Homo sapiens: one gene and its partners. The protein of the gene in region 1 purifies or fractionates together with the protein of each later gene. This does not show direct contact. Each region holds a gene or a part of one and is shown in the gene's direction. Other genes may lie near its edges. The genes, in order: LRRFIP1, ARID2, TFR2, MTCH2, NCAPG, SMC4 and USP47.

The links.
Region 2: the proteins of LRRFIP1 (region 1) and ARID2 fractionate together in Homo sapiens (co-fractionation; one large-scale study listed by BioGRID). This does not show direct contact.
Region 3: the proteins of LRRFIP1 (region 1) and TFR2 purify together in Homo sapiens (affinity purification with mass spectrometry; 2 studies listed by BioGRID and IntAct, with this or other methods). This does not show direct contact.
Region 4: the proteins of LRRFIP1 (region 1) and MTCH2 purify together in Homo sapiens (co-immunoprecipitation; one large-scale study listed by IntAct). This does not show direct contact.
Region 5: the proteins of LRRFIP1 (region 1) and NCAPG fractionate together in Homo sapiens (co-fractionation; one large-scale study listed by BioGRID). This does not show direct contact.
Region 6: the proteins of LRRFIP1 (region 1) and SMC4 fractionate together in Homo sapiens (co-fractionation; one large-scale study listed by BioGRID). This does not show direct contact.
Region 7: the proteins of LRRFIP1 (region 1) and USP47 fractionate together in Homo sapiens (co-fractionation; one large-scale study listed by BioGRID). This does not show direct contact.

What each region holds. Positions count from the first base shown.
Region 1 is NC_000002.12:237,749,587-237,753,086, forward strand, and holds part of LRRFIP1 (leucine-rich repeat flightless-interacting protein 1), read left to right. Parts: intron 1-1,613; coding exon 1,614-1,685; intron 1,686-3,500.
Region 2 is NC_000012.12:45,904,206-45,907,705, forward strand, and holds part of ARID2 (AT-rich interactive domain-containing protein 2), read left to right. Parts: intron 1-728; coding exon 729-873; 3' UTR 874-3,500. UniProt on the Homo sapiens protein: Involved in transcriptional activation and repression of select genes by chromatin remodeling (alteration of DNA-nucleosome topology). Required for the stability of the SWI/SNF chromatin remodeling complex SWI/SNF-B (PBAF).
Region 3 is NC_000007.14:100,631,553-100,635,052, reverse strand, and holds part of TFR2 (transferrin receptor protein 2), read left to right. Parts: intron 1-1,402; exon of another isoform or gene 1,403-1,496; coding exon 1,497-1,637; intron 1,638-1,712; coding exon 1,713-1,824; intron 1,825-1,929; coding exon 1,930-2,052; exon of another isoform or gene 2,053-2,130; intron 2,131-2,854; coding exon 2,855-2,971; intron 2,972-3,107; coding exon 3,108-3,247; intron 3,248-3,500. UniProt on the Homo sapiens protein: Mediates cellular uptake of transferrin-bound iron in a non-iron dependent manner. May be involved in iron metabolism, hepatocyte function and erythrocyte differentiation.
Region 4 is NC_000011.10:47,632,560-47,636,059, reverse strand, and holds part of MTCH2 (mitochondrial carrier homolog 2), read left to right. Parts: intron 1-488; coding exon 489-515; intron 516-1,325; coding exon 1,326-1,388; intron 1,389-3,500. UniProt on the Homo sapiens protein: Protein insertase that mediates insertion of transmembrane proteins into the mitochondrial outer membrane. Catalyzes insertion of proteins with alpha-helical transmembrane regions, such as signal-anchored, tail-anchored and multi-pass membrane proteins.
Region 5 is NC_000004.12:17,824,479-17,827,978, forward strand, and holds part of NCAPG (condensin complex subunit 3), read left to right. Parts: intron 1-489; coding exon 490-579; intron 580-903; coding exon 904-1,083; coding exon of another isoform or gene 1,084-1,089; intron 1,090-3,500. UniProt on the Homo sapiens protein: Regulatory subunit of the condensin complex, a complex required for conversion of interphase chromatin into mitotic-like condense chromosomes.
Region 6 is NC_000003.12:160,402,650-160,406,149, forward strand, and holds part of SMC4 (structural maintenance of chromosomes protein 4), read left to right. Parts: intron 1-26; coding exon 27-218; intron 219-1,678; coding exon 1,679-1,855; intron 1,856-1,938; exon of another isoform or gene 1,939-2,036; intron 2,037-2,095; exon of another isoform or gene 2,096-2,176; intron 2,177-3,500. UniProt on the Homo sapiens protein: Central component of the condensin complex, a complex required for conversion of interphase chromatin into mitotic-like condense chromosomes.
Region 7 is NC_000011.10:11,949,972-11,953,471, forward strand, and holds part of USP47 (ubiquitin carboxyl-terminal hydrolase 47), read left to right. Parts: coding exon 1-33; intron 34-392; coding exon 393-511; intron 512-2,769; coding exon 2,770-2,900; intron 2,901-3,500. UniProt on the Homo sapiens protein: Ubiquitin-specific protease that specifically deubiquitinates monoubiquitinated DNA polymerase beta (POLB), stabilizing POLB thereby playing a role in base-excision repair (BER). Acts as a regulator of cell growth and genome integrity.

The sequences.
Region 1 (3,500 bases):
TACCTTAGTGAGAGCACTTGGCACGTTGTGTTGATGCACTTGGTCGTCTCTGTATGCTTGGTCTGCATAGACATTCAGTCCACAAGTTTGGACACCAGACGGCTTTACCTACTTTCACACAACCCCTCCCCACTAAGTATGTTCCCCTTCGGCCTAGAACTTGCCCTTTCCTTTCTCTTTGTAATGTGCCTTTAGTAGCCCTCATCTTTGTATTTTAATGATTTTTTTTATCCCACTGTAGTGTAGGTATTATTCTCTGCTCTATCCTCAGCACCCAGGACAGTGCCAGGCATTTGGTAGTATTCTGTGTGTGAAAGAGAAACACGGTGCTATTTGTTAAAGTAACTAGGGACAGTGCATCTGAAAACCTGAAGACTGGAAGGGCAGGTGAGGTGACTAGACCTGTGTCCTCCAGGGAGCAGAACCAAGACAGAAGCAGCTGAAAGGAGCCAGAACTGACTCAGATTCTGAATTTTCTAGTGCTTTAAACTAGGTTTAAAAGGGAAGCAACTTCCACTGGGGATGTCTGAGCAGCTGGATGGCCGTTTGCCAGGGAGGACGGAGAGGGATTTAAGCATCCACCAGAGTTTGGCCAGGGTTACCTTGAAGATGCTTCCAACACCTATGTTTTATAAGTTTACAAAACCAGAAGAGCCATTTCCCATGTGCCACCCCTGGGCCACCTGCAGCTCCTTGTTGCTTCCCTTTTTTTTTCCTTTTTCTTTTCTTTTCTTTCTTTCTTTTTTTTTTTTTTTTTTTTTTTTTGGAGACAAGAGTTTTGCTTTTGTCACCCATGCTGGAGTTCAATGGCACGATCTCGGCTCACTGCAACCTCCACCTCCCAGGTTCAAGTGATTCTCCAGCCTCAGCCTCCTGAGTAGCTGGGATTACAGGCGCCCGCCACCATGCCCGGCTAACTTTTGTATTTTTAGTGGAGACGGGGTTTCGCCATGTTGGCCAGGCTGGTCTTGAACTCCTGACCTCAGGTGATCCACCCACTCGGCCTCCCAAAGTGCTGGGATTCCAGGCGTGAGCCGCTGCGCCTGGCCTGTTGTTTCCGTTTCTACAGCAGAGCAGCAGAGTTGGCGGCAGTCCTGATGTTTCTCTGCCCTTAGGTTGCGCGTGCCGTTCATTTGTTCAGGTACTTACTGAGAGGCTGGCTGGTGCCAGATGCTGTCCCCGGCACCAGGAATTTGGCAAAGTAGAGACTTGGAGCTCCATAAATGCAGGGAAAAAGTGCTACTGATTTTTGCCTCTAGCATCTTACTGTACATTGCACAGAGTAGGAACTCCTAGTGCTTGAATGAATTACTAAATAGGAGTTGAAATAACCTGTACCGTTTTCCGAGGCTCTATTTTGTCTGTTTTTTAAACTGTGTAAAATCATATGAGATACACTAAAATTGTATAAAATCATGTAAAAATATCATATGGGATACACCTGAACTTTAATCTTTAAATATTGAAGTTTATTTTCCCTTAACGCTTAATAAAATAAAAAAGAAAATTGGGTGCTCAGACTACCCAAATAGAAACTACCCTGAAGTATAAAAGATTTAGGGAATCACCTGTTTTCCCTTGACATCATCTGCCTTTTTTGCCATTTCCCCCAGGAACTCAATGAGTTAAAGGACCAGATTCAGGATGTAGAAGGCAAATACATGCAGGGATTGAAAGAGATGAAGGTACCAATTCACAGACGTGTGGTCTCACGATATTAACCCAACTTAACTTAAAAAAAAAAACAACATCCTAAAGAAGAAATTCAAAGTGCATGCTTACTGTAAATAGGCTCCAGGGTGTAGAAGAACTCACAATGGCAGGAGTGCCGGCATGGGTGTACACTCACCATTTTCCCAAATGCATTGTTTGAACCAAGATTGAAAATGTAACTGCCCAGTAGAAAAGGTTACTAACATACTCCCTGATGCATGCCTTAGACTTACCATCCTTCCCCCAGGCTTAAAACCAGTTTCTCATTTCCCATAGGCGTGTGCCAGACACTTGAAGAAGGTTCTTGGTTTTCTTCACTTTTTGTAGTAGTTGTATACAAAAATGCTTCAGTTGATTTGCTTCTCAAAATATCTGATGTCTACTAATAAGGCCGTCCTCACATGCCACACTTTTGAAACATCCCAATTATTTGCACCCTGTAAAATGCTACTAATTGAAGTAAAGACTGACTATGGCATTGGCTTTCTTGGAGCGTGTGCACACTGCTTTTAGAGTGTGCAGTGACTTCATTGCACCAGCCAGGAGATGTGGTTGCCCTGTTCCTTGACAGTAAGGTGGGCAATCAGTGACTGTCTTCCTTAGGCAGCAGCGGATCATGGATCTGGAAGTGGGTGGCGTATCTGTTACTTCCTTTTCAGCCCCCTAGAAAGTACCTGCAAGATCATTTGAATTTAATATCAAAGGGCACCAGACAGAGGAGGTGACATCGATCATGACTAATTCACTATCTTCATATCTGCCACCTTTCCTGAAAGGGGGAAAAATAAGACTCTGGCTTTCAATTCATGCGAAAAGGAGCCACTTGGCCAGGCGTGGTGGCTCACGCCTGTAATTCCACACTTTGGGAGGCCGAGGTGGGTGGATCACCGGAGGTCAGGAGTTTGAGACCAGCCTGGCCAACATGGTGAGACCCCGTCTCTACTAAAAATATAAAAATTAGCCAGGTGTGGTGGTGCGCACCTGTAATCCCAGCTACTTGGGAGGCTGAGTCAGGAGAATCACTTGAACCTGGCAGGTGGAGGCTGCAGTGAGCCGAGATCGTGCCACTGCACTCCAGCCTGGGTGACAGAGCGAGACACTGTTTCAAAAAAGAAAAAATGCTGCTGGGGAGCCACTGAACCAACCGGAGACCCGCTGGTCCCACGTGAAGCAGCTGTCCTGGTGTGGAGGTACAGAGCTAGACCAGCACTGGTCCCTCCAGCCCCCTGGTAGCCTCTGCTGCACCTGAACTGGCAGCTCTTGCCGCTGCCTTTAGCTCTGCATGTATGCGCCCTGAAGGTTCTGCCTCTCTGTTTTGGAATCGCCTTCCCCTCCTCATGTTTGGGGACCTGCAAGGGTGTGAGGCACGTGAGGGCATCGCCATGCGTATTTTACAGGCCTCTTTCTCTGGACTGTCCTTCAAAGGGAATGACCTTTGTCTTTCCAGGACCTACCCAGTGAGATCTGCCTGCCATTTTCCTATGAGTCAAAAATCTGAACTCACTACTGCTCCTTTCCTGGTTCATAAGCCAGAGTAGGGCTGGTTGGCAGTCACTGGCTTGTGGCCCTATGTAATTATCTCAGCCATCACACACTGGCTCTTTCACAAGGGCTGGTCACACGCCTCGAGTGATTCTTCAGAAATCTGTTGAACAGCCTGACACCCAGCCCTAGGACGCCGTGCTGGGGGGATTCCCCAGCTACTGAGTGGGGCCAGAGACTCTACTGCCTCTGTGACCACATCCCTTTCCATACTGGTATCTCGTTTGTTCTAATGAGTGTGTCCA
Region 2 (3,500 bases), on another chromosome or scaffold:
GGCTTGGTTTCACTTAATGAAGACTAAGAAGCTTTAATTATACCTACAATATAATTTTAATTTCATGTCATCCCTTAAAAGCAACCATTTTGTTCCTCTCCAGCTGTTTTCTGACACCATTTTCTAAATTTTCTAGAAACATGAATGAAGATTGAAAAAGAATTTTGCTGTGCAGCCTTCCATATTTAGAAAGGTACTATGGAGAGGCTGGGCGCGGTGGCTCACGCCTGTAATCCCAGCACTTTGGGAGGCCAAGGCGGGTGGATCACAAGGTCAAGAGATCGAGACCGTCCTGGCCAACATGGTGAAACCCCGTCTCTACTAAAAATACAAAAATTAGCTGGGCGTGGTGGCACACGCCTGTTGTCCCAGCTACTTGGGAGGCTGAGGCAGGAGAATCACTTGAACCCGGGAGGTGGAGGTTGCAGTGAGCTAAGATTGCGCCATTACACTCCAGCCTGGCAATAGAGTGAGACTCCTTCTCAAAAAAAAAAAAAAAAAAAAAAAAAGGTACTATGCAGAAAAGGCAAACAGTAATAGTCAGCCTCAGTTTATCCTTCTAGTTGTTTCCCAGATGCTTCCCTCTCTTCCTGCAATACTATATTAACATTTACGGGGTGTGGAGCTATGTATTGTTTCTATTTTAGTTTTTAAACTTGCAAAATTCATGATAAAGAGTCATCGCTGTGACCTTGGAGACTGACAATCTTCTATATGTTTTTTTGCAGATTGTTAAAGAGACATGAAAATAACTTATCAGTGCTAGCCATTAGTAACATGGAAGCTTCCTCCACCCTTGCCAAATGCCTTTATGAACTTAATTTTACAGTTCAGAGTAAGGAACAAGAAAAAGACTCAGAAATGCTGCAGTGAAAAATAATTCCACTTACACAGTGGGGGACTCAAAGTCAGCCACATTTCACATACTGTTACTGAAGAAAGCACCAAGTCTTAATGGAACAAAGACCATAGAATGAATTATTTTATCTCCTCCCATGATGCTGAGAGGAAGCTTCGTATTCTGATCTCTGAGTGAATCCCTTTGTTCTCTGTTTAAAAAAATCTAAAAAGAAAAAGGAAAAAAAAAAAAGAACTGCTGTGGGATTGTCAACCAGCTTATCTGCAGGATGTTTCAGATCTGATAAATCCTGATGGAAACTGGTATGATCAGAATTCAGTACCATCCACATTGGAATATACATGGAATATTGTAAAACCTACATGAGCAGATGAAATAGAAGCATTAAATATTTTTATCTATATCCAAAAAGGAGCACATTTTTATATTTACAAAACCGTTTAAGCTGGTTTGAATAATTTAAAAAAGTTTCAGCACACCTATACCCCCGATCTCAGAGGGGGCCACCAATATCTAGCTATGGATCGTGTGTTTTGTTTAGAAATCAGTAGCTTGGTTTTCTTACTTGAGCCAATATATTTTCACTTATTTATTATCATAAAAATTTACCAGTCTGAATAGATCTTGTAAATATTTGTGAATAGAATGAATACCTTTCATGCCACTGCAGCCACTGGAAATACATTCTGTGGTGTCCTAGAAGCATTATTGGTAGGTTCTAAAGTTTTCTAGACTTTCCTGTCAATTGTAAGTAATTGTGATATATTCTATGCAGTGGATGAATGTTCTTTAAATTTGTGTAAATACTTCTGCAAAGGTACTGATGCTGTAAAGTCAAAACAGTTTTGTGGAACTGTGATTTTTTTTTCTTTTTTCTTTTTTTTTTTCTTTTTTTTTTTGTATTATACACCTTGTAGAACTCATTTTGCTGGCTGAAAGAGTATGGAATAATATATCTCATGTCATTTTTTAGAAGAAAAACTATTTGAAGGTATTTTTTGGTTTTCCTTAACATGTATCCACTGTAAACGTTTGTCGTGTACAAGCTCAGAGCTTGGACAGAATTTTTTGTATTTGTAAATTGGTTTAAATACATGGAATTTTATACAGGTTTTCTCCTGTGTTATATATGCATTATGTGCAGGTATGATATTTTCTTCACTACTTTTTCTATCTTAATATAGTGTGGAATTTTATTGTATTATTCTTCCATTCTTAATACTGTACCACATTCCTGCTCAGAAACTGCTCACTTCCTTAAATTGTCTTTTTTCCCCCAGCGTGAAATGTATCCATTTATAACTGCCTATTGCCTGTTCTATTAGCATCCAAAAATGTGGAAGGCCTCCCAACCACCATTTCTGCTGTGTCCTTAGGATGTGCAGTAAAAAATATAGACCTAACAGTTTATGTTATAGAATGGCTTTATTTACTTTGGTGACTGTTTATAGTTTTTAAATAAAAGACTGAACATTTTCTTGAGTCCTTCATTTCTGAGTATGCTTAAGACATCTTAAAAATATAGAGAGAATTCTAAATTCAGCTGAAGGCAAGGTATAACGGTCACCTACCTATTTGATTATATGTTGATTGATAACATATTAAATAGAGAACAAATAAGAGAGGTCCTTTACATGACAAATTTGCATGAAATAAGCAGATTAACCAAGTATTTATTTTTCATCTTGTTATAATGCAGAGCAAATGTAGAGAACAGCAAATGATTGATGCAGTTAAAGCTCAATATGCCTTTTTTTACTGGATACTGTACATTTGGCTAAAAGCTTTTATTGTTTGATGTTGTGTTTCTTGACTGTTTATTCAGAATCACAGTGTATCCAAATCTTCAGCTTGAATTTGGAGGCAGATTCTTAGAGTGAAAAAGCCTCAGTTTCCATATTAAAAATGTTTTAAATATTTTGATTGAATTAGTACCAATGTAAAATCTAGTTTCTTCCTGAAGGAGGATCCCTGGCGCTGTCCTGCCATGTCTCAAAGGAATGTTTGAGAAACTTCATCTAATATTAGTTATAAGGTTGTGGAATTTATGCTTGGCCCACCTTCCAAGACTGGCACTGCCCAACAGACACCGCTGAAATCATGTGGGTATCCCTAGGATGGCCTTCAGAGCCCTCAAACTTACAAGCACCTGGTAGTTGACATCATATGGGGAATTTTCTATTCACCGTACTTATCCAAAAATCTCTTTTAAAAAGTAAATTTGTGCAACAACGTTTATTTGAAAGATAATGTCTTCTCAAAATCAGAAACTGCAGTGGTAATTAAATTAATAGAAAAGAGAACAAACTGCAGGTTTAGAAAAATGGTTTTCATATTCACCATTCTTCCACCTCATTGAATTGCATGCTGTAGTTCTAGCTTTTCTGCTATAATATGTAAATATGACTGTAGCCTTTTAAGCTTCAGTCTCAGCAGAGAATTTCCTAAATGCGTTTGACCTAATGAAACTGATCATGGCTTCCCACTTAGGTTTTTCTTCTTATAGCTTTATAGAACTATATAATAATATGGACTTGCTGTGTAATGGAATTAAAGTGCTTTTGCACAATAAGTTCTGCAAAACCCTCTCATTCATGAAAAGGTGCTCCTTGCTAGACAGAAACTTGCTGATTTACAGTAT
Region 3 (3,500 bases), on another chromosome or scaffold:
GCAGGAGAATCACTTGTACCCAGGAGGCAGAGGTTGCAGTGAGCTGAGATTGCACGACTACACACCAGCCTGGGCGACAGAGCGAGACTCCGTCTCAAAAAAAAAAAGAAAGAAAGAAAGAAAAAAGAAAAGAAAAGTGTGTAAAGAAAGACTATAACCAGGATCCTGATTTAGATTGCAGTTCAGGGAAGGCTTCGTTGAGGAACTGACGAGTCTAAACTGCCAAGATGAGTAATTTGCCAGGCAAAGAGACTGTGGAAAAACATTCAGGCTGAGATTCACCATTTGCGAAGGGTCTGAAATGTGAAGATGGTGGCCTCTTGGAGGAAGGGAAAGATGGTCCATGTGGCCGGTGAGGTGGATGTAGCTCAGGCCCTAAAGGGCCTTACTGGCTACTTTAACTGTTTTGAATTGAATTTTCCTGCCTCATCCCTGAGTGATCCTCCCCACTCCCCTCCCCATAAGCACCTTATCTCACGCTTTTGATGTGTAGCTTTAAATACACATATGGGGCGGGTCGTCATGGTTCATGCCTGTAGTCCCAGCACTTTGGGAGGATCGCTTGAGGCCAGGAGTTCAAGACCAGCTTGGGAAACACAGCAAGACTTCTCGTCTACAAAAAATTTTTAAAAATCAGCGGTTGGTGGCGTACACCTGTAGTCCCAGCTGCTCAGGAGGCTGAGGCGGGAGGATGGCTTGAGCCCAGGAACCGGTGATTCCCCTGAGTACCTTGGTGTAAAGTGTCTCCATGAGGCCCACGTGGAGGATGGGGGAGATGAGGAGGGTCTGCTGCCTGCCCAGTTAGCTCTTTCGAAGGAAAGTGTTTGGGTGCTGTGTGTGTGTGTGTGTGTGTGTGTGTGTGTGTGTGTGTGTGTTGACGTCGGGAGGAACGAGGTTGGGGGAGAGAGTTTGGCTTGAGCCGGGAAGAACCTACAGGATGATGGGCAGGACCCCCAGCTATGGGAAGTCAGGTTTTAAGCAGAGTGAGGTCCTGAGAGTCTCCGGCGCCGCCCTGGTGGTGATGGGAGAAAATGGGTCCGCGGAGGGCCCTGCACTGCGGCTCGCGCCTGTAATGCCAGCACTTTGGGAGGCCGAGGCGGGCAGATCACCTGAGATCAGGAGTTTGAGACCAACCTGGTCAACATGGTGAAACCCGTCTCTACTAAAAATACAAAAATTAGCCGGGCGTGATGGCACGTGCCTGTAATCCCTGATACGAGGGAGGCCGAGGCAGGAAAATGGCTTGAACCAGGAAGGCGGAAGTTGCAGAGAGCCGAGATTGGTCCACTGCACTCCAGCCTGGGCGACAGAGCGACACTCCGTCTCAAAAAAAAAAAAAAAAAAAAAAAAAAAAGCGTCCGCGGGGAGCGCTCTTTTCCTAAACTCAGGAACCCCTCGCCGCCCCTGCCCCTGGCGACCCCACGTCTCTGGCATCCTTCCCTCTTCCCTCCCTCTCCTCCGGGCGCCCAGAAAAGTCCCCACCTCTCCCCGCTTAGGCAAACCAGCCTTCGGGAACGGGTGGCAGGCTCGGCCGGGATGGCCGCTCTGACTCAGGACATTCGCGCGGCGCTCTCCCGCCAGAAGCTGGACCACGTGTGGACCGACACGCACTACGTGGGGCTGCAATTCCCGGATCCGTGAGTGCGCGCGCGGGCGGGGGGCGCGCGGGGAGGGGGACGCGGCTCGGGGCGCTCACCAGCCCCGCTCCCCAGGGCTCACCCCAACACCCTGCACTGGGTCGATGAGGCCGGGAAGGTCGGAGAGCAGCTGCCGCTGGAGGACCCTGACGTCTACTGCCCCTACAGCGCCATCGGCAACGTCACGGTGAGCACCCCCTGCCCGCTCCTAGGATGGGGCGCGGCACGAGCCCTTTCCTGGGTCTCGAAGGAGGGACGCGGGGAGCGCGCCTCACCGTCCTCGTGTCCCCAGGGAGAGCTGGTGTACGCCCACTACGGGCGGCCCGAAGACCTGCAGGACCTGCGGGCCAGGGGCGTGGATCCAGTGGGCCGCCTGCTGCTGGTGCGCGTGGGGGTGATCAGCTTCGCCCAGAAGGTAAGTGTCCCTGGACAGAGGGAGGGCTTGAGCCCGGGAACCGGAGGGTCGGACTGCCAGTGAGAATCGTTCAGGGTGCTGTGAGAGGGAGACAGGAAAGAACCATGTGGCTGGATGGTAAGAAAATATAAGCTGGGCACGATGGTTCTCACCTGCAATCCCAGCACTTTAGGAGGCCAAGACAGGAGGATCGCTTGAGGCCAGGAATTCAAGGCAACACGGTGAGAACCCCCTCTCTACTAAAAAAAAAAAAAAAAAAAAAGGTTCTTTTTTTTTTTTTTTTAGTTAGCTGGGCTGGTGGCACATGCATGTGGTCCCAGCTACTCCGGAGGCTCCGGTGGGAGGATCGCTTGAGCCCAGGAGTGCCAGGCTGCAGTGAGCTATGATCGCGCCACTGCACTCCAGCCTGGGCAAGAGAGACTCTGTCTCAAAAAGAAAAAAAAAAAAAAGAGAGAGAAACAGAGAAGGGAGGGAGGGAGGGAGGAAGGAAGGAAGGAAAATGTTGGCTGGTCTGGGAATTGAATCAGAAGGAAAAAAGAAAATGTTGGCTGGGAACAAATTGGGTGTTGGGGGAAATCAGATGGGGAAGGGAACAGAAACATGGGGTACCCTGGAGCCCGGTGGGGTTTGAGGGCTGCCTAGGAGCTGCTGAGGTTGGGAAGACACAGGCCAGGTAGTGCCCCCACATCCTCTCCGTGGGATGGACAGTTGCAAGCAAAGGCCTTGCCATTTCCTGGTTTCTCCTGCCCTTATGAATCGGGTTTTTTTCTGGGAGGAGTCCTCTAGTCACCTTCCTCCCCAGGTGACCAATGCTCAGGACTTCGGGGCTCAAGGAGTGCTCATATACCCAGAGCCAGCGGACTTCTCCCAGGACCCACCCAAGCCAAGCCTGTCCAGCCAGCAGGCAGTGTATGGACATGTGAGTCTGGGGAGGCTGGTCGTGCTGTTCCCAGGTCCCGAGGCCACACCTTCTTGCTCAGAATAGGGCTGGCATGTTTTTCGTTTTTCCTGGAAGCCCAGCTCGCAGCTTTGCGTGGGCACCCCTTTCCCTGCAGGTGCACCTGGGAACTGGAGACCCCTACACACCTGGCTTCCCTTCCTTCAATCAAACCCAGTTCCCTCCAGTTGCATCATCAGGCCTTCCCAGCATCCCAGCCCAGCCCATCAGTGCAGACATTGCCTCCCGCCTGCTGAGGTGAGGGGAGTGTTGGGGACCAGAAGAGGAGGAAGCAGAGAGAGGAAGGCTGCAGCGAGGCCACAGGGTGATTGTGGGTGAACTAGAAAAAGGTGACTCTTGTTTAAGCCTGCAGTGAGCCATGACTACACCACTGCACTCCAGCCTGGGAGACAGAGAGACCCTGACCTTTTTTTTTTTTTGAGATGGAGTCTTGCTCTGTCTTCCAGGCTGGAGTGCAGTGGTGCAATCTTGGCTCACTGCAACCTCCACC
Region 4 (3,500 bases), on another chromosome or scaffold:
GCCTCCTGGGTTCAAGTGATTCTCCTGCCCCAGCCTCCCTAAGAGCTGGGATTAAAAGCGTGCGCCCCAATGCTCCGCTAATTTTTGTATTTTTAGTAGAGATGGGGTTTCACCATGTTGGCCAGGCTAGACTTGAACTCCTGACCTCAGGTGATCTGCCCACCTCGGCCTCCTAAAGTGCTGGGATTACAGGCATGAGCAACCACACCTGTCCCCTTTTCTTTTTTCAAAGAAGAGTTTTCATGACCATTTGCTTTTCTTCCAACTGACCAATATGTTAAACTTAGCAACAAGTTTATCTTGGAGATCCATATTTCCAGTTGATTAATGAGTAGAAGTTAACTGAAGATTTGCAGCTTAAAAAAAAAAACAAAAACTTTAAAAAAAACTTCAGCTAATTTACTTTCTGTCAGTAGAGTTTTCATTTTATGTCTTCTTTCACATGACACTGTAATAACCCTAATCATCCTTTTTCTTTTTTTCTATAGCATTACCAGGAGAGTGACAAGGGTGAGGTATGTTGGAGCTGATTTCTAAGCATGAGGGCCTTTCCCTTGCAAGTTGTTACTGCTTTTGGGGCCTCTTTTGGAGAAAAGCCAAGTAGTCAGTCTCCTATTCATCTCAGTGAGTGTTGTCCTATGGGGTGGCCACCAGTTTGGACAGTTCTGTTTGAAACCATCAGGATGGCTGGGCATGGTGGCTCATGCCTGTAATCCTAGCAGTTTCGGAGGCCAAGGTGGGAGGATCACTTGCATCTAAGAGTTTGAGACCAGCCTGGGCAACATAGACCCCTTCTCTACAGAAAATCAAAGATTAGCGGGGCCTGGTGGCACATACCTCTGTATCTCAGCTACATGGGAGGTTGAGGTGAGAGGATCACTTGAGTCCAGGACGTCAAGACTGCAGTGATCCATGATCACATCACTGCACTCCGCGTGAGTGACAGAGCGAGACCCTATCTCAAAAGAAATAAAAACCGTCAAGATCGGCCGCCCATGGTGGCTCATGCCTGTAATCCCAGCACTTTGGGAGGCCGAGGCAGGTGGAGATCACGAGGTCAGGAAATCGAGACCATCCTGGCTAACACGGTGAAACCCCGTCTCTACTAAAAATACAAAAATTAGCAGGGCGTGGTGGCGAGCACCTGTAATCCTAGCTACTTGGGAGGCTGAGGCAGGAGAAGCACTTGTACCCAGGCGGTGGAGCTTGCAGTGAGCCGAGATTGTGCCACTGCACTCCAGCCTGGGCGACAGAGCGAGACTCTGTCTCAAAAAAAAAAAAAAAAAAAAATCAAGATCTCTATTTTCTTTGATTTTGATTTCCAGGAGTTAGGACCTGGAAATGTACAGAAAGAAGTCTCATCTTCCTTTGACCACGTTATCAAGGAGGTAAGAGATGAATTACATCCTGTGCTGTTTGCCCAGATCAAACTGTGGTGTTGCAACTATGGAATCAGAATCATCAGGCCTGTGTGTTCAGTGTCTGTTCCCAAATGAAATTAAACCTTCAAATTAATTTGGGCTTTACTACATGTATAACATTAAAAAGAGAGAGGATCAGTGCTTGCTGTTCAGAATAGATGCATTTCAAGAAAACTCATTTTGCCCACACATTCCGTCTTTAGAATACTGAAAGTCTTCTAATAGTGTTGAAAACCTCAGGAATAAAAGTGTTAAAATAGGCCAGGTGTGGTGGCTCACGCCTGTAATCCCAGCACTTTGGGAGGCCAAGGCAGGAAGATCACTTGACCCCAGGAGTTAGAGACCAGCCTATGCAACATAGTGAGACTTCCTCTCTACAAAAAAAATAGAAAAATTAGCTAGGTGTGTGGTGGCACATATCTGTAGTCCCAGGTACTCGAGAGGCTGCGGTGAGAAGATGACTTAAGCCCAGGAAGTTGAGGCTGCAGTGAGCTATGATTGTGCCACCATACTCCAGCCTGTGTGATAGAGCAAGACCTTGTCTTTAGAAAAAAGTATTAAAATAGCGACCAGGCCCTTTGTATGTTGGATAGTATCTATGCAGAAAGGCTCTTTTGACATTTTTCTGACTCTGAAAAGTTCCTCATCACCCATTTCCCACCCCCATATGCTGCCATAGGTGTTTCTGTGCCTGGCTTTCAGAACTATTCTCTTATTACTTAAGTCTTCACATTGTCTTAATTGTCATTAATGAAGTCACAATTATCCAGGAAATGCAGCCATCCAAAATACATATTCCAAAGGCTGGGCGCAGTGGCTCATGCCTGTAATCCCAGCACTTTGAGAGGCCGAGGCGGGCGGATCACCTGAGGTTGGGAGTTGGAGACCAGCCTGACCAACATGGAGAAACCCCGTCTCTACTAAAAATACAAAAATTAGCCAGGCATGGTGGCGCATGTCTGTAATCCCAGCTACTTGGGGGGCTGAGGCAGGAGAATGGCTTGAACCCGGGAGGCAGAGGTTGTAATGAGCCAAGATTGCACCATTGCACTCTAGCCTGGGCCACAGGAGTGAGACTCCATCTCAAGAAAAAAAAAAAAAAAAAAAAAAAATATATATATATATATATATATTCCAAAACAAACATTACTAAAGGTCTGGAAACCAGATAAATTAGCTCTATTTTCTGTAAATTTTCATGAAATTAGTTTGCTTAAAAGCAGGGATACGGCCGGGCGTGGTGGCTTACACCTGTAATCCCAACACCTTGGGAGGCCGAGGCGGGCAGATCACGAAGTCAGGAGATTGAGACCACCCTGGCTAACACGGTGAAACCCCGTCTCTACGAAAAATACAAAAAAATTAGCTGGGCATGGTGGCAGGCGCCTGTAGTCCCAGCTACTCGGGAGGCTGAGGCAAGAGCATGGCGTGAACCTGGGAGGTGGAGCTTGCAGTGAGCCAAGACTGCGCCACTGCACTCCAGCCTGGGAGACAGCGAGACTCCCTCTCAAAAAAAAAAAAAAAGCAGGGATACATGTATTACTATGCAATTAGTATTTTCCTTAGTTTGCCCATCCAGTCCCATAGGATCTTATGCCCTTGGAGAAGGGGTGAGGGCTGTCTTAAAACTCAGTGACTAGGCCGGGTGTGGTGGCTCACACCTATAATCCCAGCACTTTGGGAGGCTGAGGCGGGCAGATCACGAGGTCAGGCATTCAAAACCAGCTTGGCCAACATGGCGAAATCCCATCTCTACTAAAAATACAAAAAAAATTAACTGGGCATGGTGGTGTGTGCCTGTAATCCCAGCTACTCAGGAGGCTGAGGCGGGAGAATCACTTGAACCTGGGAGGTGGAGGTTGCAGCAAGCTGAGATCGCACCACTGCACTCCAGCCCGGGCAACAGAGCAAGACTCTGTCTCAAAAAAAAAGAAAAGAAAAAACTCAGTGACCATAAAGATACTGTTTAAATGCAAAAGCCGGCCAGGCACGGTGGCTCATGCCTGTAATCCCAGCAGTTTGGGAGGCCGAGGCGGGCGGATCATGAGGTCAGGAGATCGAGACCATCCTGGCTAACAC
Region 5 (3,500 bases), on another chromosome or scaffold:
CTTTTCCTGATCAGCCAATTCCAATATACAAGTGGTTCTGAAAGGAAAGTCCTTCCTTATGCTATTATTATTTATGCATTGTCTACCCAAAGGAAGAATAAAAGGATATTCCATTTTTCTGTGTTTAACTCCTACAGAGCTGAACAAGAGAAGGGTTGAGGATTTTAGGCAGAGAATTTAAGTGTCTCATCTTAAGCACCATAATTCATATTTCTGTTTTTCAAACATTATATGAGGGATAATTTACTTTCACTGTCTGTGTGCCTATTTCCCTTCCATTCAAATAATTTCATTTTGTAGTCAGATATATTGTTTTGTTTTGTTTTTTTCTAAAATTGTCTAGCAAACAGAATGTGTGCTATTTCTACCAGTATGTTTTTGCTCCATTATTCAATATATGGTGGATACTACTTGGAGTTTTATATAGAATTTTGATACTATTTGCTGATATATCAAACATATATTAAAGCATGTACTCTGAACTTACAGGTTACAGAAATTATCTCAGAGATTCGGGCGCCCATTGTTACTGTTGGTGTTAATAACGATCCAGCTGATGTAAGAAAGAAAGAACTCAAGGTAAGTCTCTTTTAAATGAAAGAAGTGCTTGAGTGTAATGTAGCTGGGCAAGTCTATTCTTTCCTCTTGCTGTGCAGTTCTGAAATGTTTCTCACATAATCAAATTATTGTTTAATTGTTAAACTATAAGAATATTTAAAATGTTACCACATATGTCAGTCTCAGAGATATGCAGATCTCTGTGTCAGGAAAACTACAAGTTTGCATATGCCTGACTCATTAAATTCTGGGCAGTTGAGATATTAAATAATACTCCTGAGTTGCTACAGATATTCATATTAACAGTTTTTGTTCAGTGTTGAAACAATTTATATCTTCCCTTAGATGGCTGAAATAAAAGTTAAGCTTATCGAAGCCAAAGAAGCTTTGGAAAATTGCATTACCTTACAGGATTTTAATCGGGCATCAGAATTAAAAGAAGAAATAAAAGCATTAGAAGATGCCAGAATAAACCTTTTGAAAGAGACAGAGCAACTTGAAATTAAAGAAGTCCACATAGAGAAGGTACAGGTAACTTTTTTCATACTAAATCTCAGGTGTTATTAATCATCTCAACTAAATCTTATTTTCTCTAACTTCTAGAATTGCCAAAATATATTTACTTTGAGCACTTTGTAATAGTGACATGAATTAAAATGAAAAAAGTTTTTCCCTGTTTCTATTTTTGGACTTTGAAAGGCCTTAATTAACTTTAATTATTGGAGGTAGGACTTTATTTGCTTCCTTGTCATGCTAATCTCTAGAATCCGAAGTCTTTCTTACCAGGGAAGCTAGCTTTCCAGTGGTTCACATCTGAGTTTTCTGTTTTTTGTCTTGAATGGTTTAAAAAAGGAAAATACATCCATTTTCCTCTTATTTGTGGAGGATCAATGACCTTTCTTTTTTATTGCTAGCAAAATAATTTCTATGGTAACGTGCATTTTTTTAAAGCTAAATTACTTTTGTGTTTTTAGAAAAAGCTACGCAGCTTTGTTATTTTTAATGAAATACTGAAATATGTCTAGTAACATTTAAAGCTTGCTTTTCAGTAGTTCGTTTTTTAAAAAATTAGTTTGTTAAAGTACTCTCTTAAATGGAGTATGTCTTTCCTTCTGAAAGAAATTTTTTGTTAATGGTATCGATACCATTCTGTCTTACAACAAATGATAAATATGTAAACATAAGATAGGTATCAATTAATATTTGATATTAACTTTAATTTCTTTTGGGATCTTGCCTTTTGTAATGAACATCATTTATTGTTGTACTTTTGGGATGTGCTGATTATTCTCATAAAAAGAATGCTAAATAGGAGACTCTTTTATATAGGAGAGTTTCATGAGTTATGTTTCTGATCTCTTTAGCCATAGACATCCCAACTCCAACACCCACCTTCCCAGAGTGTATGCCTGAATTTTATTTTGATAGCTGGTGGCTTCTTTTATTTGACGAAGTCTGTGGGCCATTATAGGCTATTAAATTTGGAAAGCAAATTTAAAGCAAAAACTGAAAATATCATCTGAAAAATGACAAACTTTAGGTCAAAATTATAAAATTAGCAAAAGTAGTCTATCATGGTTAATATCGTCTGTTTAACTTGACTTGCTTTGACCATTTATGTGTCTATTTGTCCTGTTCGAGGGCTACAAATCTGTTAAAATGCAACTACAACAGAGCATAATAAATGCTATGGTCAGGGAAGTATAGAGGTTTTATGGAGAGGTTTCTAGTGCTGGTAGAGTATTGTTGGCTTCCCCAGAGGAAGACATGTTTTATCCTGAGATTAGAATAAAAATAACAATATAATCTAACAGTCAGAGGATACTTTTTCTGTGGTAGTCACAGCATTAATTACTTCACAAATGTGAATTCATTCTTTTCTTCCTATAGGCCTATGAGGTTGGTACTATTATTATCTTCATTTTACAAAGGGCAAGTAACTTGCCCAAAATCACACAGATAGTAAATGGTGGAGGCAGGATTTAAACCCAAGAAGTGGCTCTAGACTTGTGCTTTTAACTCACTCTGTGCTGTCTCTCCTCAATGAATTATGGAAGGAATGTTGTAGACAGATGGAGCAACATCTGTGATGGTCCAGAAGTTAAAGAATGCCTATTATGTTTTAAAACTTCAGGTCCATGTGACTAGAGAATTGATGGGGAGAAGCAGGAGAAAAATCTGGGGAAAAATTAAGGGCTAGGTCATGTAAGGCTTTGCGTAAGCAATATTAAAAATTTTGTATTCTAAGGATTGTGGTGAACCACTAGTATTTTAAGTGGTTAGGTAAGTCTTATGTCTCAGATCACTGTTGTTTAGGAAATGGATTGGAGAGTAGTAAAAGCTTAGACAGGCATAATAGTTGGGAGACTTACAGTAGGGTTGGGAGACTTACAGATGATGGTAGTCTGAACAAGATAATGACAGTGGATTTGGAAAGTAGTGATGAACTTGAGAGGTATTTAGAAATTAGTAACGGAGAAAAGGGAGTCAGGAATGTATCTTAAGTCTTTTGGTTTAGACAACTGGGTAGATGGTGATGACAGTATGAAGATAGAGAACAAGGAAGAGGAGAGATTTGTGTAATGATGAGTTCCCTTTTGGACATGTTGAGTTTGAGGAAACTGTGGAACATCAAGAGGAAATGTCTTTTAGCAGTTATATATATGAATCTGAAACTTAGAAAATAGCTGGGCTAGCTCATAGATGATAAACGAGGTTGTCAGGTTTTTTTTTTTTTGAGGTGATAATTAGGCAAGATGAAGATTAGACTTTTTTTTTTTTTTTTTTGAGACAACGTCTCCCTCTGTTGCCCAGGCTGGAGTGCAGTGGCATGATCTCAGCTCACTGCAACCTCCACCTCCCGTGTTCAAGCCATTCTCGTGCCTCGGCCTCCCAAGTAGCTGGGACCACAGGTGTGCACCACCACACTAATTTTTGTGTTT
Region 6 (3,500 bases), on another chromosome or scaffold:
GTTTTGTTTTTGTTTTTTTAATGCAGCGCTTTTCCTGTATTATCGGGCCAAATGGCAGTGGCAAATCCAATGTTATTGATTCTATGCTTTTTGTGTTTGGCTATCGAGCACAAAAAATAAGATCTAAAAAACTCTCAGTATTAATACATAATTCTGATGAACACAAGGACATTCAGAGTTGTACAGTAGAAGTTCATTTTCAAAAGATAATTGATAAGGTAAGGGATTTTTACTGTTATTGGCAAGTTCAAGTAAGGAAAATGGACTTAAATGCATTACATATTTTATTTTTGGCTTTAAGAAATTTGTATGTAATTACAGCGGAAAGCATTGGTTTCATTATCTCTGACCGTATTTTATTTTGGGGGAGTGGTGGTGCCTGTTAAAATACTTATTTTTTAGCTAAAGAAATGAAGTATAAATAGTTCATAGTAATCCTTTTTGGAATAAAAGCATTGAGCAGTTTTAGGGTCCTGAGTACTAAATAGGCATTATTTTACTATAAATATTCAGTTCATTTTTAAAGTTATATTTTGATTGCTTTAGAATAAATTAGCTAAACTTGAAAATGTAGCAGTTAGCCGGTTTTACCATCTTCATTATTTCAGTGCATTTTAACTCTAATGTTAGTGGCCCCTGAGTATCTGTGATATGAAAGAGCTTTGCTTCAGTTTGACTACTGCTGTAATTAAGTCCTTTAGAAATGGGGGAAGGACAAGCTAATGTTTGTTTTCTAGAAATGGAGACAACTAGAGGTAAAATGTCTAGATTATTTACCTGTTGAGACTTTTTCTCTTCTGTTTAATAATGTAGGAAATTGATTGTTCAAAAATGACTCGATGGAACCTAAAAATATAGAAAACTAATTACATAATGAAATTGGGAGGTGATTTGTCTTTTGAATTCGTTTTCCTTTTTTTAATACAAAGTGCTTTAATTACACAGAATCATCTATTTTAATTTGGTTTCTTTTGTGCTTTCTATTGTACAAGTTGGGTTGGAAAATAGATTGCCAGGAAATCAGATTTTATTCCATTGCATATTAATTACATTTGATTTATCTAAATTTTAGAAGCCTTTGCTTCAGTATGACAGAACTTTTAAGGTTAAGGGAAAGTGTTAAAGTAGATTTGCAATTGATTTTTTTAAAAATCTGTTTAAAAGAAAATCAAGGGAATTTAGTTGTTATTTCTTTGTGATTCTTTTTACTTTAAATTAACGGCACACTCTTTACCCTCCCACACAAAAAAACTAAAGTGTATCACCCGGTTACTACCTTCCTTCCTTTTTCTTTGAATCATCATTTTAAAAAGCTGCAGCTTTTTAATCTGTCAACATGTTAATAATTTGTGTGGGTTTTGGATATGGTGGGAATCTTGTCTACGTCTTCTCAATCATAAACGTTTTTAGGCTTGTTTGGAGGTGGGTTTTTTCGTTGGCTGGTTGGTTTGGCTTCTTGATTTTTGTGATCTTTGAGAAAGGGACCAAAACAGCATGGAAAAGTATCAATTCTTTGCTAAGTTGGGTTATTAATGAGAACTACTGGCAGTTTGTGTGCATGTTCAATTGAAGTTTTTAATCCATAGAATTAGTTTCAGTATGAAATGAGTGAATTTTGAAGTAGGCCTATGACTTAATACCAACAATTGTTTTCTGGTTTTGTTTTTCCTCAAAACAGGAAGGGGATGATTATGAAGTCATTCCTAACAGTAATTTCTATGTATCCAGAACGGCCTGCAGAGATAATACTTCTGTCTATCACATAAGTGGAAAGAAAAAGACATTTAAGGATGTTGGAAATCTTCTTCGAAGCCATGGAATTGACTTGGACCATAATAGATTTTTAATTTTACAGGTAAGTTTATTAAAGACTTCAAAGATTCTCTTATTCTTGTTACTTTTTTTTCTATAAAGCTAGGTTGGATGAATCCTACATTTTTGAGGCCTTAAAGTACTGTAGCAGCACATCATGGTTTACATGCTACAGTCAAGATGCGAATCATTATTTGCTGCTCTAGAAATTTAAGGAAATTCATTCAAAACTATGTTTTCATCATCAGATGTTCGTTTTATGTTTGGATGAACTGACATACTTGTTCCACTCTAGCAGCACGTAAATATTGGCGTAGTGAAATATATATTAAACACCAATATTACTGTGCTGCTTTAGTGTGACAGGGATACAGCAACTATTTTATCAATTGTTTGTATTTCCCTTTAAGGTAACATTTTAAATGAAATGTATTATATTTTAATCTATCCTTTTCCTTTGTTTTTGTTCTTATTATCTCTTCTGATATATAACCAAAAAATGAAAAAATCTGTACACTTGGTGTTTGATTTACCTAAGCACCTAGTTAATTTAATCTTTGTAACACTTTGGATGGTTAACTTAACCTTTACTCAAGTTGGTTTTTGTTTTGTTGAAAATGACTTACTTGGTGGAACCACTACTACTGAAAGAACGAAACTTTGATATTACATTGTTAAGTATCAGAGCTGTTACAGAGCAAGTCCTTTTAAAGAGATGTAAAAATTAAGTACCTGTGCCAAACTGATTTTTATTAGAAACCCTGTTTTCTTTAAGTAAAAGTATATTCTACCAGCATGGCTTGGTAAGAAAAATCCCCTATCTTTTTTTCCCTGTCCTCAAAATTCAGAATTTTTCGGAAAAAAAAAAAATTAGGGTAAAACCATGGCTTTGTCAAGTTCCTGTTTGATTCGAGGGTATCTTCTTTTCCTGTGTTCTATCCAGAATCACCGAAGCATAATAAAAGCAAAACTATTTTGTGATGCAGAAATGACTGAAATAAGTAGGGAATTTTGTTAGGGTGACTGGATGTTCCTAATAACAAACTTATAAAATGTTAGCCTCTGTTTCCATTTTAGTCTTTATTCTTCAATTGTTTCTAAAAATTATTACTTTTAGACATTCATAGTATACAAGGTAAATCAGTATCATTCTAGGATAACCTTTTTTAATATCTTTTGTTACCAGGCACAGTATATTTGCAATACTTCAACCTAAACTTATTTAAAAATTAATGTTGAGGAAATTAATTGCAGATATATTTCTAAACAAGATTGGAATTTATAGAATGTGGCATTAAAGGATTTTGTGTGTTTTTAAAATCAAATTGAACTGTTTTATTGACTTACATATTCTGGGACTTGGTTTGGTTAATAATGGATAAAAAGTTATGTCCCTATATAATACTAAATTTGATGATGATACCAATTTGCAGGAAATTGTACTTATGTTTATCTTTTGCTTAATCTTTTACCGTCATCCTGGGATAATCAAAGTTTTACATTTATCCAAAGATTCATCAAAATACACTGCATTTTAACCCTTCTAAGGATAATTTTTTTCTCTGTACAGCATCTCTGTACGTAATTCAGTAATAAAGGAAGCTAATGTAATATTGTCCCAACGAAGTAAATAATTTATAAATTGTCAAATTTATATTACATTTGTGCTTCTGAAGTATATGGGATGC
Region 7 (3,500 bases), on another chromosome or scaffold:
GGAGCAATGTGGTTTAGAGCTCAGTATTGACAGGTAAAGTAAAATTAATGTCATCAGCGATTTGAAGAAAGACTATGTGGTCAGTTGAAATGGACTGGTATGATTTTCTAAAACTAGGAGAATTAAAATTTCCTGTGCTATTCAGAATTTTAGTATGACAGATTAGTTTAATAGGACTAAACAAGAGTATTAAAATTTTGTTTGGATTTCCTATACAGAATTCTAAATTTGAATTACTGGAAACATTTCTTTATTTCCCCAGATTTTAACAACTCATTATTTGACTTTTGTATTTGAACATAGTTCATTTTTCTTTGGTGTCAGATTAGTGTCAATCTTTAAATTGAGAGTTTCAAATTATAGTCGTTTTAAATGTCTTATCACATTTGTAGGTTTCGTCTAAGGAAAAAAACATGGAAGAATCCTGGCACTGTCTTTTTGGATTATCATATTTATGAAGAAGATATTAATATTTCCAGCAACTGGGAGGTTTTCCTTGAAGTTCTTGATGGTATTTTCAATATTTTTGGGGGGAAGTATCAGTTAGAAATACTCTAGAACTAATAGAAGCCTATAGTTTTTAATCAAATAATGAGTTACGAGGAATCTAATATACATTATAGTGTTTTGTGTTATATTAAGCATAACGATATCCTTATTATGGATTGATGTGATTCCTACCTACGTCTTATCCTTGGGAGTTTTATTTTCTTCCCCTGTGTCCTAATGTAACTGCTTAAGTTGTTTTTGAAAGAATAATCAGTGTCTTTCAGCCTTCTGCTATCTTTCTCTGGTTCCCATTTGCCTTTTAAGTATTCTTTTTTTGAATGTTGAGAATATTAATTCCCCCTTATGAGGAAATTACAAAGTTAGGTTTTTAATACATTTTAAGAAAACTCTGCTAATATTTTCTTAGCCACGTTTGTTCTTTAGTTTCTTTTTTACTATTATGGCTTATTTTGTATTGAAGACATGGTACTGATAATTTATCAGAGACTCAAGAACAATGACTATTTGTGTCCTAAGCCAGGTGGCTTAAAGAATAGAAGTGTATTGTCTCACAATCTGAGATCAGGCTGTCAACAGGGTTGGTTCCTTCTGAGTGCTGTGGGGGAGAATCTGTTCCATACTCTCTCCTAGCTTCTGTGGTTTTTGGCCATCATTGGCAACCTTGGCTTGTAGATACATCACCCCAGTCTCTGCCTTCATCTTCATGTGGTGTTCTTTCTGTGGGCTTGTCTGTCTGTATTGTTTTCCCCTTTTTCATAAACCACTAGTCCTATTGTATTAGGGCCCACCCTGAAGACCTTATTTTACTTTGAGTATCACTGGAAAGACCCTATTTCCAAATAAGGTCACATTCTGAGGTACTAGGGATTAGGATTTCAAAATGTCTTTTTGTGGGGGGCACAATTCAACCCATAGCAGTGACCTTGAGGAGGTCCAAGTAGCAGACATACTTGTCACACCTCCCAGTTTTCGTTATCAACATTGGCACATTTAAAGTATTGGTGTTTGGAGGGAGGCTTATAGGAGGAAAGTTGGCTTTTAGAAGATCACATCAAGGTAAACAACTAGTTCTATATTCTTTTTTTGCTGTTGCTTAGGAAAATTTTAATTTTCCTTTTCTTCTGTAGAAAGTAAAATATGAATTCTGGATATTTTGTTACAAGATTATCCTAGTTTTTAGAGAGCTCAATAATACTAACACCTCATGTATTTCAGGCTGCTTCAGGTCTAATTCAACCATAAATTTAAATGGTTGAAATTCTGATTAATTGACAAGTTAAGTTGGGAGGTAAGGAACAACTAGGATACCATCTACTATGGTGTGTAGGCAAGTGCTCCAGATTGTGATTTCTTTGAGTATCTGGGGTCGTAGGGAATAATCACTGTGCCTGGGTAAGTCAGGAAGAGATCATAAATGACAAAGAAGTCACCCTTGTAAGGATTGAGTATGTATTAGCAGAGATGGATTCATCTGAAAATGGTACTAGATGGTGGGTGCCTGCATCAGTATTATTTCAGTATATTTTCACATCAAGATAGTTGAGTAAGAAATGTCATGTGATTAAATCCAAGAGGTATTTATTGACCTGTAATTTGCCAGACACTGCTAATCCCTTGTGCTACAAAAATGAGTAAGAACCACTTATTGGTGCACACAGTCTGTGGAAGAAACAGAACTGCAAACCTGTCATTCTAAAATAATAGGTACTAAGGGACTGAATCAGTAGAAGTTCTTCTTGTGTACACCAGAGAAAAGTGACAATTGAGTTGATGCTTGAAAAGTGACAATTGAGTTGATGCTTGAAAAGTGACATAATGGAAAAGTGACAATTTTGAAGAATCACTAAATTGGGGAGTAAATGGAAAGAGAAGGATTAATAATAGCTTTAGTGAAAAAAGAGGATAAAGTGAAGTTGATTTGTTTATGATTTTAGATAGGGATAGGAGCCAATAGAGAAACAAAGATTGGAAATCCAGAGAAGAGAGTAATTGGTAATGCAGTGTTCAACAGGAGTCAGGAGGGAGTGGAATTAGGAGTACTGGTTTGAAGAAGAGAGGAATTATCTTCTGAGACTGGAGAGAAGAGAGTAAATATTTCATTCTCAAAAACTCCTTGGGATAATTGGGTTTTTTCTTGTGCCCACTTTTTAAGAGTAACACTTGAAGTAAATCTTTTTGTTTAGTAAGGCACTAAGGGAAAAGTCAAATTATGAACCTTCAGAGGAAATAGAATGATGACCTAATCTTGCATATTCTTAGGGGTAGAGAAGATGAAGTCCATGTCACAGCTTGCAGTTTTGTCAAGACGGTGGAAGCCTTCAGAGATGAAGTTGGATCCCTTCCAGGAGGTTGTATTGGAAAGCAGTAGTGTGGACGAATTGCGAGAGAAGGTAAGTTCATTTTAAACAAAACATGTATCTTATGTTGTATATGTATATCATAATATTAATAAAATATATAATATATAAACAATACATTCTTCCTGTGTTGCGTAAGAGAAAACCTAGGAAGTAGTACCAAACACTGGTGCAGCAACCTTTCTTTTTGGTTTCTGTCACACCTTGTGGCACACTCTGGTTGTTCAGGCTCCTGATTCTTTGAAAAATTACTTTGGCTCCTGGCCATTCAGAAGTGGATCCTCACTTTCTGTTACTTGGACCAATTTTGTCCTAAGTAGTTAGAATTAGTTAGAAGTTACTAGAGTGAATTGCTTTATGTCTAAAAAAAACCAAATGAAGTCGAATTGTGTAGAGAATCCAGATGAAGGTCTGTTTTGCATTTTAAGATGGGATATCTAAGGATCTCTGGGGAAAGGGTGAATTAGTCAATCTGTGGTACTAGCACAATGAGCATTTTGAAAAAGATTTATTTCCATACTTCATACTAAACACAAAAATAAATTCTAAATGTATTAAGTTTATATATAAAAAAAGTAAATGTACTAGGTGAAAATATGTAAAATATTAAATACTAAAAATATTTTCATATTC